Linked DNA regions of Homo sapiens: region 2 is linked to region 1. Evidence: fine-mapped expression QTL. Tissue or cell type: blood mononuclear cells. Region 1 holds a variant in brackets; the other region holds the start of a gene. All regions are shown on one strand. Distances are from middle to middle.

What was found. PIP is the estimated chance that this variant, and not a neighbour inherited with it, causes the effect.
Region 2: SBF2 starts here. The variant in region 1 is fine-mapped to the expression of SBF2 in blood mononuclear cells (TOPMed, PIP 0.99).

What each region holds. Positions count from the first base shown.
Region 1 is chr11:9,805,346-9,813,495 of GRCh38, forward strand. It overlaps SBF2 (SET binding factor 2), which reads right to left. Exons shown (of 40, transcript NM_030962.4): 30 at 7,187-7,363; 31 at 3,556-3,657; 32 at 2,655-2,840. It overlaps SBF2-AS1 (SBF2 antisense RNA 1), which reads left to right. Exons shown (of 3, transcript NR_036485.1): 2 at 2,503-3,939; 3 at 4,915-5,974. Among named protein-coding and RNA genes, the nearest start is that of LINC02709, 50 kb to the left of the region's middle. The variant G/A (reference allele first, on the strand shown) is at 3,703.
Region 2 is chr11:10,290,017-10,296,790 of GRCh38, forward strand. It overlaps SBF2 (SET binding factor 2), which reads right to left and starts at 4,203. Exons shown (of 40, transcript NM_030962.4): 1 at 3,999-4,203. The coding sequence starts at 4,053. RefSeq lists silencers at 3,601-3,740, 3,781-3,860, 3,891-4,170, 4,291-4,340.

The sequences.
Region 1 (8,150 bases):
GTGTTGCATGTGCCAGTAATTCCTTTTTACTGTTGAGTAGTCGTCCACGGTATGGATGTATCCCAGATTGTGTAGCCATTCACCTACTGTAGGACAGACATTTGGGTTCCCCCCAGTTATATTCAAATCGGATATGTGGAAGGGTAATTCTTTAGGAAATGTGGAGCCACTGAAGGTTTTTGTTTGTTTGCTTTGAAGACTTTTGTGGAGGGGAATAAAAGGATTGTATCTGAGCTTTTGGAAGATTATGCCAGCAATTCTACTTAGGATATTCTAGATTTTTTTTTTTTCCCCCAAGACGGAGCCTCGCTCTGTCTCCCAGGCTGCAGTGCAGTGGGGGCTTCTCAGCTCAATGCAACCTCCGCCTCCCGGGTTCAAGCGATTCTCCTGCTTCAGCCTCCCAAGTAGCTGGGACTACAGGCGTGCGCCCCCACGTCTGGCTGATTTTTTGTATTTTTAGTAGAGATGGGGTTTCACCATGTTGGCCAGGATGGTTTTGATCTCTTACCTCGTGATCCACCCACCTTGGCCTCCCAAAGTGCTGGGATTACAGGCGTGAGCCACCACGCCCGACCAGGATATTCTAGATGGTCTTGATGAAGGGTGGTAAGAGCATGAACAAGACTTGTGGTCTTTCAAATTCTCATATATTCATTGAGATTATCTATTTATTGTCTATTATATTCCAGAGACTGAAACTGTAATTGTGTTAGATACTAGGGATATGAAGACTAGTATGACATAGTCCCTGTTCCCAAGAATTCTCAGACTAAGTAGAGGGCAATAGTTACATACAAATAAACATACTTTAGTGCTATAGATGTTATCAAAGAAGTCTATACCTGACTCATTAGAAATACATATAAAGTGGGAGCGTGAGGGTCAGCAAAAGATTCAAAGAATTATGAACTAAAATAACATGTGTAGTGCTCAGAACAGTGCCTGGCACATAGTAAGCAGTCGACACAAATTAGTAATTATTGTTAGTAATGGTGGTATACGGAGGCAGGAAATAGTCTAGTCCAATTGATAAGCATAATAAAAAAGCAAGATAAGAAGTGCTTTCATGAAGAACTCATATGCTTTCACCTGCCTAGAAGTGAGAAGAGATAGATGCTTGCTCCTCTCCTTTGGCCTCAGGTAAGCTTTCTGTTTCAGAGACAATGGTCTCCAAACTTCTCCCTCATCTATTTGCCAAAAGGAGTATGAATAAAAGGGCCAATATTCAAACAGAAAACAAATATAGTATACTCTTTGCTGCAAAGAGTTTAAAGGTACATGCTTAACCTTGTGACCAGCTCCTCCAGTTACTGCTTGGACAGATCAATTGAAATTCGTCAATCGGTCTTGTCTTTAATAAGTAAATTAGAGCAGTAAAAAACATAGCTTCCTGTGTGTGGGGTGAAAGGTTGGAAAGTCACTGCTCATGAGTATGGAGTTTCTTTTTGGAGTGATAAAATGCTCTAAAATTGATTGTGGTAATTGTTACAAAACTTTGTGAATGGATTCAAAACCACTGAACACTTTAAATAGGTGAATTGTATGATATATATAGTTCAATAAAGCTGTTATTTACAAAAATTATGTAGTGATCTGGAAAGTTGATCAAGTGATTACTAGAATAAAAACAAAATAAAACATAACCACATACTAACTTGGTGTCATCACAGTTAGTTTCAACTCTGGTTCCTGAAAACATAGTTCTGCCTTTCTTTCCAATCGATATTTGAGGCCAGTGTGTTTCAAAGAGGCTCACCATTCCCACAAATGTTTGACATGCCAGAACCCATTCATCCAACCCTGGGATTGTGGTCAAATGAAAGCTGGAAATAGGCCTGCTTTTCCTAGGCCAATTCAGTCTTCAACTTGCAAGCTCAGTGCCATCCAATTCTCAAACCCAATCCTGACCAAGGCCCCATCCAGAGGTCTGTATCTGATGTGCCTGCGATGAAGGCAGGAGGGAGCCTAGAGCAGTCACATCTCCCCTACCCTCACTGCATTTGAATGGATATACCTGGGCTCCCACTTATAAGTGAGAACATGAGGTATTTGGTTTTCTGCTTCTGCATCAATTTGCTTAGGATAATGGCCTCCAGCTATATCCATGTCATTGCAAAAGACATGATTTCATTCTTTTGTATGGCTGCATAGTATTCCATGGTATATATGTACCACAGTTTCTCCATGTGGTAGAAGTGACCAGTGTTCTCAAGCCTGTATGCCTGTCTGGCTGGGCCCTGATTATTTCTCCAGGGGTTAGGCTTTACCTCTTATGTTCCCAGGCACAAGCTGGGGTCCTCCCAAACTGGGCAGACCATGTGCTCGATTTCAGGACCCGTATTACCTAGAGATTTTGTTCTTAGGTAATAAGCCCAAGTTTGCTTCTCTTCTTTGAAGATGGTCATTTAGAGTGCTGGCTACTTCACTTGGGGCAAGCCCAACAGCCAGCTTAGCTGTCCTAGTTTCAGAAACCAACTAATTTTTTTTCTTTTCCATTCCTAGGAGTCTACTGCTAAGATTTCAGCATGTCCTGTGGCTGAGTTAATCAGAGTTATGACAGGAAGGTACCGGGCACACCATCGCAATGCTCCATCAATGCTAGTATGTTGTGTTCTTTCCTTCATATCAAGTCAACTCAAGCTTGCTCTACTTACCTGGTGTACACAGTCTAAGAACTGTAAGAAGACTGGAGCAAAACCACTCCCCTGACAGTTGAGGGTCAAGCTGCTCCTCTGACTGAATTTGTGACCAAAAGAGAGCCACTCTTTTTCAACCAACATCTGGAAGCCTTCAAGTGTCCTATAAAAGGGATCACTGAGTAACTGAACCAGGGATGTCACCTAGGGCATAAGCAGGATGGATTGTCATTAATTTTAGTTCTGAAAAAGGCCTATTACTAAGATAAAAGCACTTCCTTCTGATGATAGCTAATTCACAAATTTACCTGGACAGCAAATTTGTTCACTAACCATTCCAGGATGGCCAATAAAATTAATTTTGTAAACTTGCCAGTAAAAACTAAAGCTCAAATTCATTTTGGCTACAAGTTTACTTTCAGGGAATTGAGACTTTAATCCTTAACTGGCCAGTTTGCTGACAGCAACCTTTTCCTAAGTTAATCAGAGGCCAGAGGATCAGTTAAAATCAATTCTACTTTTTGGCAGATGCAGATTAATGTCTTAATGTAGTCTGAACTCACACTTTTCACTCTGGAGTGAGTTAAGGCGGGGCTTATAGAGAGCCAGGGGATGGACTGACAAAACCCAGGAAGGATGGTCCACGCCTCACACTGCTGGTCAAGGGCTCCATCCGCAAGCCTGCATGGTACATCTGTGGATGGGAGAGCTTGATGCCCGGAGCCAGAGCTCCAGGCTGCGTAGGGGCTAAGAGCTCATGGTACGGAGTTTTCTGATGGATACCAGGTGCTGTTTAACACAGGACTTTCTCTGTCCATAAACACATTAGTCATTATACAAAAGAGTCATCTGAAGAATTTAAAAATGACCAAATGGAAATATAAATATAAAATATCAAAAAATATGTCTAATAGTTTACTTGTGCAGTGATGTCCCAGCCTTCCTCCAAACAGACCAAAACTGAGGAACCATTCTCAAGTACTTCTGATACAACCACAGCCAGCTGCATTATCCTGTGAAGCTAAGAGACAGGAAGGAGAACACAATTAGACCAAGCGCTTTCTGA[G/A]TGCAGAAGTCAGAGAGAGTTGCTTTCAACCCTGGATAATCAAACGACTTAGGGATAAAGCGCTTGCACAAAAGAACCACATAATGTTTTAAATACCTAAAGTTCTTTCAAATCAAGATTAAACAATGACACTTTTGACTGGATGCAATGACTCATGCCCATAATCCCAGCACTTTGGGAGGCCGAGCCGGGCAGGTCATTTGAGGTTCGGAGTTCGAGACCAGCCTGGGCAACATAGTAAGACCCCATCTCAATGAAAACAACAACAAAATGACACTTCAAAAAAGTAGACACATTTTAAAACAATACATTCTAGTAATACATAATGAAATAAAATTACCTTACATGATTCCCCCAAAAGTAGGTGAGCTATAATTCCATAGAGTACAAAAAACAGAGATTCTATGTGGACTTCCCAACAAAAGACGGAAATTCAGATGAATTTTATTGGATTTAAAATTTGTTTTTCCATGATGTAGTAAGTTTTGTTTCAGACATTTTTTTTTTTTTTTTTTGAGACAAAGTCTCGCTCTGTCACCCAGGCTGGAGTGCAGTGATGCAATCCTGGCTAACCACAACCTCTGCCCCCCGGGTTCAAGCGATTCTCCTGCCTCAGCCTCCCGAGTAGCTTGGATTACAGGTGCATACCAGTGCACCCGGCTAATTTTTTGTATTTTTAGTAGAGACGAGGTTTCACCATGTTGGCCAGGCTAGTCTTGAACTCCTGACCTCAGGTAATCCACCTGCCTCAGCCTCCCAAAGTGCTAGCATTACAGGCGTGAACCACCACGCCTGGCCTATTTCAGGTATTCTTAATTTTTTGGGAATTAGATAGTGGTGATAGTTACACAATGTTGTGGACATACCAAAAAGCGTTGAGTTGTGCACCTTTATCATAAGGATAAATTTTATGGTAAGTGAATTATATGTTAAAAAAGAAACTCCTGGCTGGGTGTGGTGGCTCAACGCCTGTAATCCCAGCACTTTGGGAGGTTGAAGCAGGAGTAGTGCTTGAGCTCAGGAGTTTGAGACCACCTGGGCAACATGGCAAAACCCCATCTCTACAAAACATACAAAAACCAGCCAGGCGTGGTGGCATCTGCCTGTAATCCCAGCTACTCAGGAGGCTGAGGTAGGAGGATCGCTTGAACCTGGGAGATCGAGGCTGCAGTGAGCTGTGATTGTGCCACTGCACTCTAGCCTGGGTGACAGAGCAAGACCCTGTCTCGAAAAATAAAAATAAAAAAGATACTCCTATTTGTCTATACTGTGTACTAAATGAGAAAAAAACTTTCAATATATTTGTGCTAAGTTTTTAAAGCCACATCAATTGGCTCAAAGTCCTTAATAAACAATTAAGGTATGAGAATAGTATATAGATTTTAAAACCAGATGTATAACATTGTAATTTTAAAAAATATTTTAATGATCATCAGACATAATTTGCAATTTGAATCCAACTCTGAACAAGAACAAAAATGAAAAAACCCATCTCTTAAACAGAGCTAGGCTACTTTAAACACAGGAATAAGGCAAATGCCCTACTCAGTAATGAGAAGCTCCTCATGTAACTGTTTCTACAACATAGCTATCACCAGGCCTGAATTCTTTTGGGCTCAGAATTTGTTCTAAGAAATGGCTATTATTAAAAAGTCAAAAAATAACAGATGCTGGCGAGCCTGTGGAGAAAAGGGAATGTATATACATTTCTGGTGGGAATGTAAATTAGTTCAGCCATTGTAGAAAGTAGTTTGGTGATTTCTCAAATAACTTAAAACAGAATTACCATTTGACCTAGCAATCCCATTACTGAGTATATACCCAAAGGAATATAAATTGTTCTACCATAAAGTCACATGCACACACATGTTCAGTGCTGTACTATTCACAATAGCAAAGACATGGAGTCAACCTATATGCCCATCAACGGTAGACTGGATAAAGAAAATATGGTACATATACACCATGGAATACTACACAGCCATAAAAAGAATGAGCTTATGTCCTTTGCAGTAACACAGCTGAAGCAAACTAACACAGGAATGGAAAACCAAATACTGCATATTCTCACTTATAAGTGGGAGCTAAACATTGAGTACACATGGACACAAAGAAAGGAATAGACGCCTGGGGCGTATTTGAGGTTGGAGGTGAGAGGAGGGTGAGGATAGAAAAACTACCTATCAGGTACTATGCTTATTACCTGGGTGATGAAATAATCTGTACACCAAACTCCCAAGATATGCAATGTACCTATACAACAAACCTACATATGTACCCCTGAACACAAAATAAAAGTTAAAAAAAGAATTTGCTTTAAGAGTTAACTTTTAAGATGTCAATATCCCAAGTGGGCAATTATTTTCCACTGTCTTTAGTCCCTATCTTTTGGTACAGGTCCACTTTCTAGCAAAGAGTAGAGCACAGAATGTATCAGAAACATGGATAGATAAGTTGGGTGGAGGGGTCCGTTTGGAGCTGGGGCTCATAGCCTGGGGACAGAAGGGAGTATCGACCAGTTCCTTCCACGGGTATGCAAAGCACCCTAAATTGCCTTAATAATAATGAACACAGCATGATACATTTATAGCCAAATATTTATGTGGCGGCATTTCTCTTTGGTTTAAGTATCTTGAGAACAGTCACAGCCCTGAGTACTGACATCATTTCCTTTTTTTTTTTTTGCCTTTTAGTCCAATGTGCTGTGGGAAACAAGAGGCAGGATGCTTGGAGGTAGATGGAGGCAGGGGACTGGGAATTTCTGCAAGGTGATAACAAATAATGGGGGCCAGGCGTGGCAGCTCATGCCTGTAATCACAGCTCTTTGGGAGGTCAAGGTGGGAGGATTACTTGAGGCCAGGAGTTCAAGACCAGCCTGGGCAATATAAGAAATAAAGGGGCTTAAAGACAAGGCCCTTTAATTTCTCAATAAAAGTTCAATTAAGAATATCCCAAAGTTGACTGAACTGAAAGATGATAGACACTGTGTTTTTTTTTCAAGCCTTAGGTAGGCTTGGGGGCATCCAGTGTGCCTTTGGTGGGTAGTGTGGGGTGGATCTAAAATCTAGAGACCTGGGATAGGCAGACAAATGAAAGGTGAGAGCTCTTGGGAGTCATGCAGAAGTTGCCCTCTGCCCTGGATCCTTACTGTATTGACAACAGAGCAGGAGCCCTGTAAATACATGCTGATTAAATTTACATCAAAGATTTCCATCTAAAAATAATTTTCTCCTTAGTGTCCTATAGATACCAAACTTTTAAATACACAGAGATAAAAACCCAGCGATCAAGACTTCTACTCCCTCACCTCCTATACCAGATGATTTCCTTAGTCTGAAAGGCCTTTACTGATGGCACACAATGAAGGAGGAGAATGTTGGGGAGTAGGGGAACAAAGTATTTTTTTTCTCAAATACAGTTCTGTATATCTACTTGGGCCTCTGTTTCTTTGAGTTATAAAGAAAGAAGCTGCTTCAGACATTACCTGTGGGAACCACTCAGAATCTCCCAGCGCTTTCAGGAAGGTCACTTCTGAGTCAGTAGGGATGGTGCTTGGGATACAAGCCCTCATCAGCTTCTTAAAACTGGCTTTCACTTGCCGGATTTCATGAAATTCAACAGGAACAAACTCACAATTTAAAGCAAATTCTACCTTGAAGTTCTGCGGATGAAGATTCAGAGAATTAGGCAGATGAAGTGCTATAGGTAAAAGAGTGATGTTTCCAATGGGGCAGTGCATAATGACAAAGTTATTTGGGGCCAAATAGCTGCAGAGGCTGCCAATGGGTCAAGAAAGTCAATCTTGTACAGCAATGTGTCAGTGTTGGTGGGAACAGCCATTCAGTACAAGCTAGTGGTTTGCCCAGAATGGCAAATCTAGTCCTTACTAGAGGTAGATTACTTAGCCTAAGAATGCGTTCATTCTGAGAACTGGAAGAGCCTACTGGTAGACTGGAACTTGATGGAGCTCATAATACCAAATATAAGTCAATTATAAGGCCATGAACCTGGAAGTTTAAAGAGAAACTAATGATACATGGACAGTATGATTACTCCAACAGTGTAAACTAAGTCTTCCCAAGATGTATATGGTAAGGGATAGGTAACACACTGTTGGAGTTCCAGACTGTACGTGTATTAAAGTTTGTAGATATGCACATATTTGTTTCTTATTATGCAAGTAAAACATATTCATAATAAAAATGAAAAAAGGTAGAGATAAATATTGAGAAAGAAATAGAAATCACTTTCTTACTGCCCCAAGACTACCAACATTGTGGTTATTTTTTTGTTTTTTTGGGATGGAGTCTTGCTCTGTCACCCAGGCTGGAGCGCAATGGTGCGATCTTGACTGACTGCAACCTCCGCTTCCCAGGTTCAAGCGATTCTCCTGCCTCAGCCTCCCGAGTAGCTGGGACTACAGTCGTGCGCCACCATACCCAGTTAAT
Region 2 (6,774 bases), 480 kb after region 1:
CCCGCACCTCTTCGCTGCCATCAACATGACAAAAGAAGAATTATCCCAAGTTAAAAAGTTATACATTTCACTGTTGACATTCTACAATTTATACAAGCTTCTGGATTGTATTACTTAAAAAATTAATCTTCCTTCTCCTTCCCTTTTCCTGCTGTGAGAAGAGCAGTTGTCATGGTACCCCTGGGGTGGAGGTGGATCCCTGGGGTGGAGCTTGTCATATTGTCATAGACCAAGAGAGCTAGGGAAGGAGTCTGTGTGGTAGGGGAAGAGGCAAACATTTTGCTTCAGAGCCCAAGCATTAAGGCAGGAGGGGGAAACTGGCAAAGGGCACTGGGGTACAACAGAGTGAGAAGGATATCTTCCAATGGAAGCAACTCACTGGGGTGTGTCAGAGTCTGAGTGGGGTACGAAGTGTGTCCACCGACAGTGGGGAGACCAACATGAGGAGTCATAACCAGAGTGCTGGGGAGGGTGTCCCTGTATGGAAGCATGCTGGTATGGACTCTTAGATCCAGACTGGGGTAGGGGGATGGAGGAGATGGAATGAAGAATCCAAGTCCCAGCAGGGAGAGGAGTAGATGGTAGTGAAGATGGGAGACTGAACAATAAGTAAATACATTCAGGATAACAGAAGCCAGATTTCTCACTGTCAGAGAAGAACGTTACAATATGAAAAAGGAGAACACTAGAATAGATCCTGGACTATTTGACTGAAATTGGAGGTATCAGTATGAATTCATAGTTTTCAATATACAGAGATAATAAATAAATATAGATATAAATGCATATGTATGTTTATGCATACATACCTATACTTACCAGCCCTGACCATTAACAGGACCTGGAAGGAGTAACAGCCCAACAGCAATAAACACACTAGCCTTGAGATCTTAGCTTCTAAATGTCATTCTCCACTAAAAGGAACCAGGGATCCCTAAATGGCTGATTACAGAACCAAGGCATGGAAAGTACAAGATGAGCCAGGAACAGGTTCTTGTGCCAAAAAGTACAAAGTTGTTCTCAAAGAGTGATGGGGATGTACCATAAGAACACAGAAGCCAGCTTGTACAACTCTCATTGGCCATATAAAGAACAATTTGAACATCAAAATAAATAATGCTATAGTCTGAATGTGTATGTCCCCTCCCAAAATTCGTATGTTAAAATCCTAACACCCAAAGTGATGGTATTATGAGGTGAGGCCTTTAGGAAGTGATCAGGTCATGGTGGTGGAGTCCTTGTGAATGGGATTAGTTCCCTTTTTAAAGAGACCCCAGAGAGCTCATTTGACCCTTAAGCCATATGAGGTTAAAGTGAGAACATGGCTATGAGGAAGCATGTCCTCACCAGACACTGAATCTGTCAGAGTCTTCATCTTGGATTTCTCTGCCTCCAGACTGTGAAAAATAAATTTCTATTGTTTATAAGCCACCCAGTTTGAGGTATTTTTGTTATAACAGCCCGAATGGACTAAGGCAAATAGTAACAGAATATAATCCGCGAGCTCCCCTTTCTGGTCTCACTTCGGCTGGATGTGCTTAGACTCTCCTATTTCCCACTCAAGCCAGTGCTTCGGGCAGGTGGGCTAGTGACTTTTTCCGAATAGACTAAGGCAAATAGTAACAGAATATAATCCACTAAACACACACACACACACACACACACACACACACACACACACAGACTCCATGTAGATGTCAATAAATGATTAAGAGTTTAGTGAGGAACAAGATATTTACATAGTTTCAAAGTACATGGCAAAAACAATTAAGTATTAACTTTACAGTGGAGAAGCCTCGCAGATATTACTTATATCAAGTAATCAAAGTAAAAATAACCAACAATGAAACAAAGTGAAATTGTGCACCACCTGACAGGATGCAGTGAGCATCACTTCTGTGATATCCTTCCCACGTGCATATTCGTATGTATCTAATCATGAAGGAACAGACAATCCCAAATTGAGGGGGCAGCCTACAAAGTGACTGACCTGTAATTGTTAAATATGTTAAGGTCATGAAAGTCAGGAGAAGATAAAGGAAATGTTCCAGATTGAGGGAGACAAAAGAGACATAACATGAATGCAACACATATTGCTAAACTGGATCCTTTTGCCAGTAAAGAGATTACTAGCACAATCAACAAAACTTGAACCAGTCTGAGAACTAGATGGAGTACTGTATCACTATCCATTTCCTGTTTTGGTTATTACACTGTGATCATGTAGGAGAACATTCTTGTTTGCAGAAAATGCACATTAAAGTATTCTGGGATGACAGGGCATCAGGTCAACAGCTTCCTCTCAAATTGTTGGGGGGCGGGTAGAATTTTTTGTACCATTCTTGCAACTTTTTTGCAAGTCTGTTATTGTTTCAACATTGTTGGCCGGGCGTGGTGGCTCAAGCCTGTAATCCCAGCACTTTGGGAGGCCGAGGCCGGTGGATCACGAGATCAGGAGTTCAAGACCAGCCTGGCCAGGATGGTGAAATCCCGTCTCTACTACAAATACAAAAATTAGCGGGCGTGTTGGCGGGCGCCTGTAAATCCCAGCTACTCCGGAGGCTGAGGCAGAGAATTGCTTCAACCCGGGAGACAGAGGTTGCAGTGAGCCAAGATCGCACCACTGCACTCCAGCGTGGGCAACAGAGCAAAACTCCGTCTCAAAAAAAAAAAAAAAAAAAATTGTTTAAAAGTGGGGAGGGGGGGAGGCGGAACAATGTCACTAAAAACTAAAGGTTAAAAAACTGATTTCCCACACTTAATCTTGATAGAAAAGAAACATCAGACTATGCCAAATTACTAGGAAATAAAATTTTGGATCCAGAAGTTTAAACATTTAAACTTTCTCTTTAACAATTGACCTCAATCAGGTCATGACTGGTGAAAGAGAAAAGAACATGAAAGGTTCCCACTAAAGGAGAGGAAGTTCTTAGGAGAGGAATAATGAAAGAGAGAGTGGACCAAGAGTGGGTAGAACAATGGTATTCTGAGCTACCAATGGCTGTAACCATCAGGAAAACACAATCTCAGCATCTCTGAAAAATGAAGGGGCTGTAGAGCTGATATCTCAAATTCCTTGCAAATGTGGGACTAGAATTGCCCTAAAATAGAAGTGGTTTCCCAGCTCAATTTGTTATTACATTATGCTTAGCTACATAGTAATACAAGAGAATACAAATACAGAAATAAACGTGCATGAACCCTGAATTCTCTTAAGTTGTGGAAGTCCGTCAATTAAAGTGTAAAATACAATGCATTTGCCCAATTGTTCCTTACGACGAAAATTCTGTGACAAATAAAAAGAACAATGAAAACACATTAAAGTGAAACAAGATCACCTTCAGCGGTCAGCTGGCTGTCCTTAGTTAAAAGACAAGTCATGTCACTGTGAAGTGACCGTCACATTTGTCCTGAAAGAATAGGGAGCATTTCCTAGAAAGGGGTAAAAGTGCAAAGAATCCTGTCCCCTTCCCTGGTACCACGCGTTCCTTGGGGAGGTCACTAGGCCCCCAACAGCACAGGGGTGAGTTAGCACTGGACTCTCAGCACTTCCTTTCGGAGAGGACAACCCCCTGCGTCACTGGTTACTCACTCAGGATGCAGGGCAGAAGTTTATCCCCGAGGAACTTAGCACAGTTGGCTCCCGCCCTCCCAGCCTTGCGGTCCTGGGCCCAATCTCAGGGCTCTCTCTGCCCCGGGTACCCTGCAGCCTCCAGCGGGAGGGTCGCGAGACCCCAACTCGCCTCCGGCCCGCCCAGCGGGTGCGCCCAGGGGCTGGGCAGACGCGGCGTCTTCCCTCCCCCTACCGTCGTGCCGGCCCCCCCACGCCCACCGCCAGGCTCAGCCCAGCCGAGAAGGCCGGACGCCGACCGCCCGCTCCTCCGAGACTCGGCCTGGCCCTCCCCGACGCCCGTCCCCGACGCCCGGCCCCGCGGAGCCCACTGGACAGCGGCCGGGGGGCGGGGAGGCCCGGGGGCGGTGCCGCCCCACACCCTTACCTGGCTTCTCGTGGTCATAGCCTACCACGATGAAGTAGTCAGCCAGCCGGGCCATGGCCGCCGCCGCCGCGCTCGGGAAGCGGGTCCCCGTCGCCGCCCTCGCCGCCGCCGCCCACCCGGCCCGGGAGGGCTCAGCATTTTCCCTGCAGCGGCAGTAGCGGCAGCGGCAGCGCTTCAGCCATGTTTGACAACCGAGGCGCGCTCTGCGCTTGCGCGGCGCCTAGTGCCCGCTCCTCCCCCGCCCCCACCCGCGCTGGCTCGGCTGCCCCAAGCCCGGGCGGCGAGCCCACCTCCACCCTCCGCGGGCCTCGCGGACTGCTGCGCTGGGGGAGTGGGCGGTCGGGCGTGTTCCCGCCACGCGCCGCCACCGCGGCCCCTGGAGGTGGTTCACTTTGAGGCCTGGATGCTGCTTCACGGCCCCCTCTGCCTCCCTATTTTTCCTAAAGCAGGGGGTCCTTCCTTCCGCCTTCTCTATTCTGTTTGGATTTGGAAGAAGGGATGTGGAGAGTTGAGGGGTCACTTGGAAAGCTGGCTGCTTCCTCTGCTCCCCACCACCACCAAAGATGAAATTCTCCCGCCCTCGGTTGGAAGCAAGGAATTTGCATCGACAGGGCTTTTGCTGCACGTTTCCTGTTTATGTTGTGTAGATGGGAATTTTAGAAACATGCCACCGAGCAGACGGGGGAGGGAGAGGCTTTTACGCAATCCTCCAAGGAGCCTCGGGTTTCAATGCCGGGTGGGCCGGGGGCGGTCGGCCTGGGCTTCCCCCGGAGCGCCCGGGAGAGCCAGATTCCACCGAGGAACGCGGCATCCCCGGGATCCTCCCGAACTGGGCTGGCCTCTCCCTGGGGAGCCCCGCACGCCTCGGCTTGCTTCCCTCGCAGCGGTCCCAGGGCTCTCGCAGCCCGAGCAGGTGGACTTCCAACTTCCCTGCTCAAACATGCACAAAAATGAATAGATGGTCCCGTCCTTCCGTCTCGGGATTATCAAAGTCGCTTGCTTTTTTGTTGAACCTCCTATTGACCATTTCGAATTTGGCTGGTGTGACATTCAGGTGAACTCACTTTGTCATTTGTTAATATCTCACGAAGTTTTAGTAGAATTTGTACAAGTGGTAGACCAAAGTTTTGGAAATCTCCGTGGTTTAGAAGTTGTCTTTGTGGTTGCTTATCACTGCTCACTATTAATTGAGGGTTTGATCCTTCATATTTACACATAAGACAAGGCCTCTTAGCAAAGCGTCTAGTATATAGTAGGTGCCTACAAAATATTTTAAATGAGTAAATGTGCGATTTTCCCCAACGACCAGCAGGAAGCCGCAATGGCTCCAACTCTGAACTGAGAGAGTTGACATCTCAGCTCCTGAAGATTTACTCTGCTGTAATTTACTATTTCCCCTTTCTCTGCCACACTTGTTTCATCTACAAATTGGGAGGGTTGGGCTGCACTAGAACTGAAACTGAAGGAATACTTTAACTCCAGGACCTCTATGTCAGTTGCTAATGGTAAAACTGAATCAGCTGAATTTGCAAACGTGGAGGGAAGATAGTTTGATCCTGAAAATAATTAAACCAAAAAAAAAAAAACCTCAGTCATACCCCGTGCAGCAATCCTCTCTGTAACTTCCCTGAGAGCTCATCATCCAACTTGATCACTTTCAGTAAAAAGTAATCTTACTTCCTTGGGAGGCAGCGCATTCCACTGTTTAACAGCCCTATTGTTAGAAAGTTCTTCCTTATTATTTCAGAGTTGTCTTACTGTAACTTCCCCTGATTCTGCTCTCCGGAACTATCCAGAAAAAAAAAATCTATCTTCATATGATAGATTTTTAAGGCAGCTATCATATTCCTTCCCAACTTTTCTAAAAATAGGGCAAAATTCACATATTGTAAAATTAGCCACTTGAAAATGTAGAATTCAGTGGCAATTAAGTACATTCCCAATGCTGTACAACTACCATGTCTATCTAGTTACAAAACATTTTCATCACCCAAAAGAAAACCTCACAACCATTAAGCAGTCATTCTCATTCTCCCCTCCCACAGCCCCTGGCAATCACCATTTTGCTTTCTGTCTCTATGGATTTACCTATTATGAATATTTCATATTCATATCATACAATATGTGGGTTTTTTGTGTCTTGGTTTTTCTCACTTAGTATATTGTTCTCAGCTTGTTTACGGGCAGATACAGTACAAGGTTGTAGCATCACATTGAAGTATCAATACTTCATTATTTTTTATGACTCAATAATATTCCATTGTATATTGTGTTAGACTGTTCTCACGGTGCTAATAAAGACATACCCGAGACTAGGTAATTTATAAAGAGAAGAGGTTTAATTGACTCACAGTTCCACATGGCGGAAGGCAAGGAGAGCAAAGCGGCAGACAAGAGAGCTTATGCAGAACTCTCCTTTATACCATCAAATCTCATAAAACTTATTCACTATCACCACAACAGCAGGAGAAAGACCCGCCCCCATGATTCAATTACCTTCCACCGGATCCCTCCCATGACAGGTGGGAATTATGGGGTACAATTCAAGATGAAATTTGGGTGAGGACACAGCCAAACCATATCATATGTATATACCATATTTTGTTTATCTGGAACAACCCATATGGACATATGGGTTGTTTCCACCTTTTGGCATTGTGAATAGTGCTGCTTCAAACATGCATGTACATGTATTTGAGTACCTGTTTTCAATTTTGGGGATATATTCTTGGGATTGGAATTACTGGATTAAGTAGTTCTGTTACTACTGTTTTCC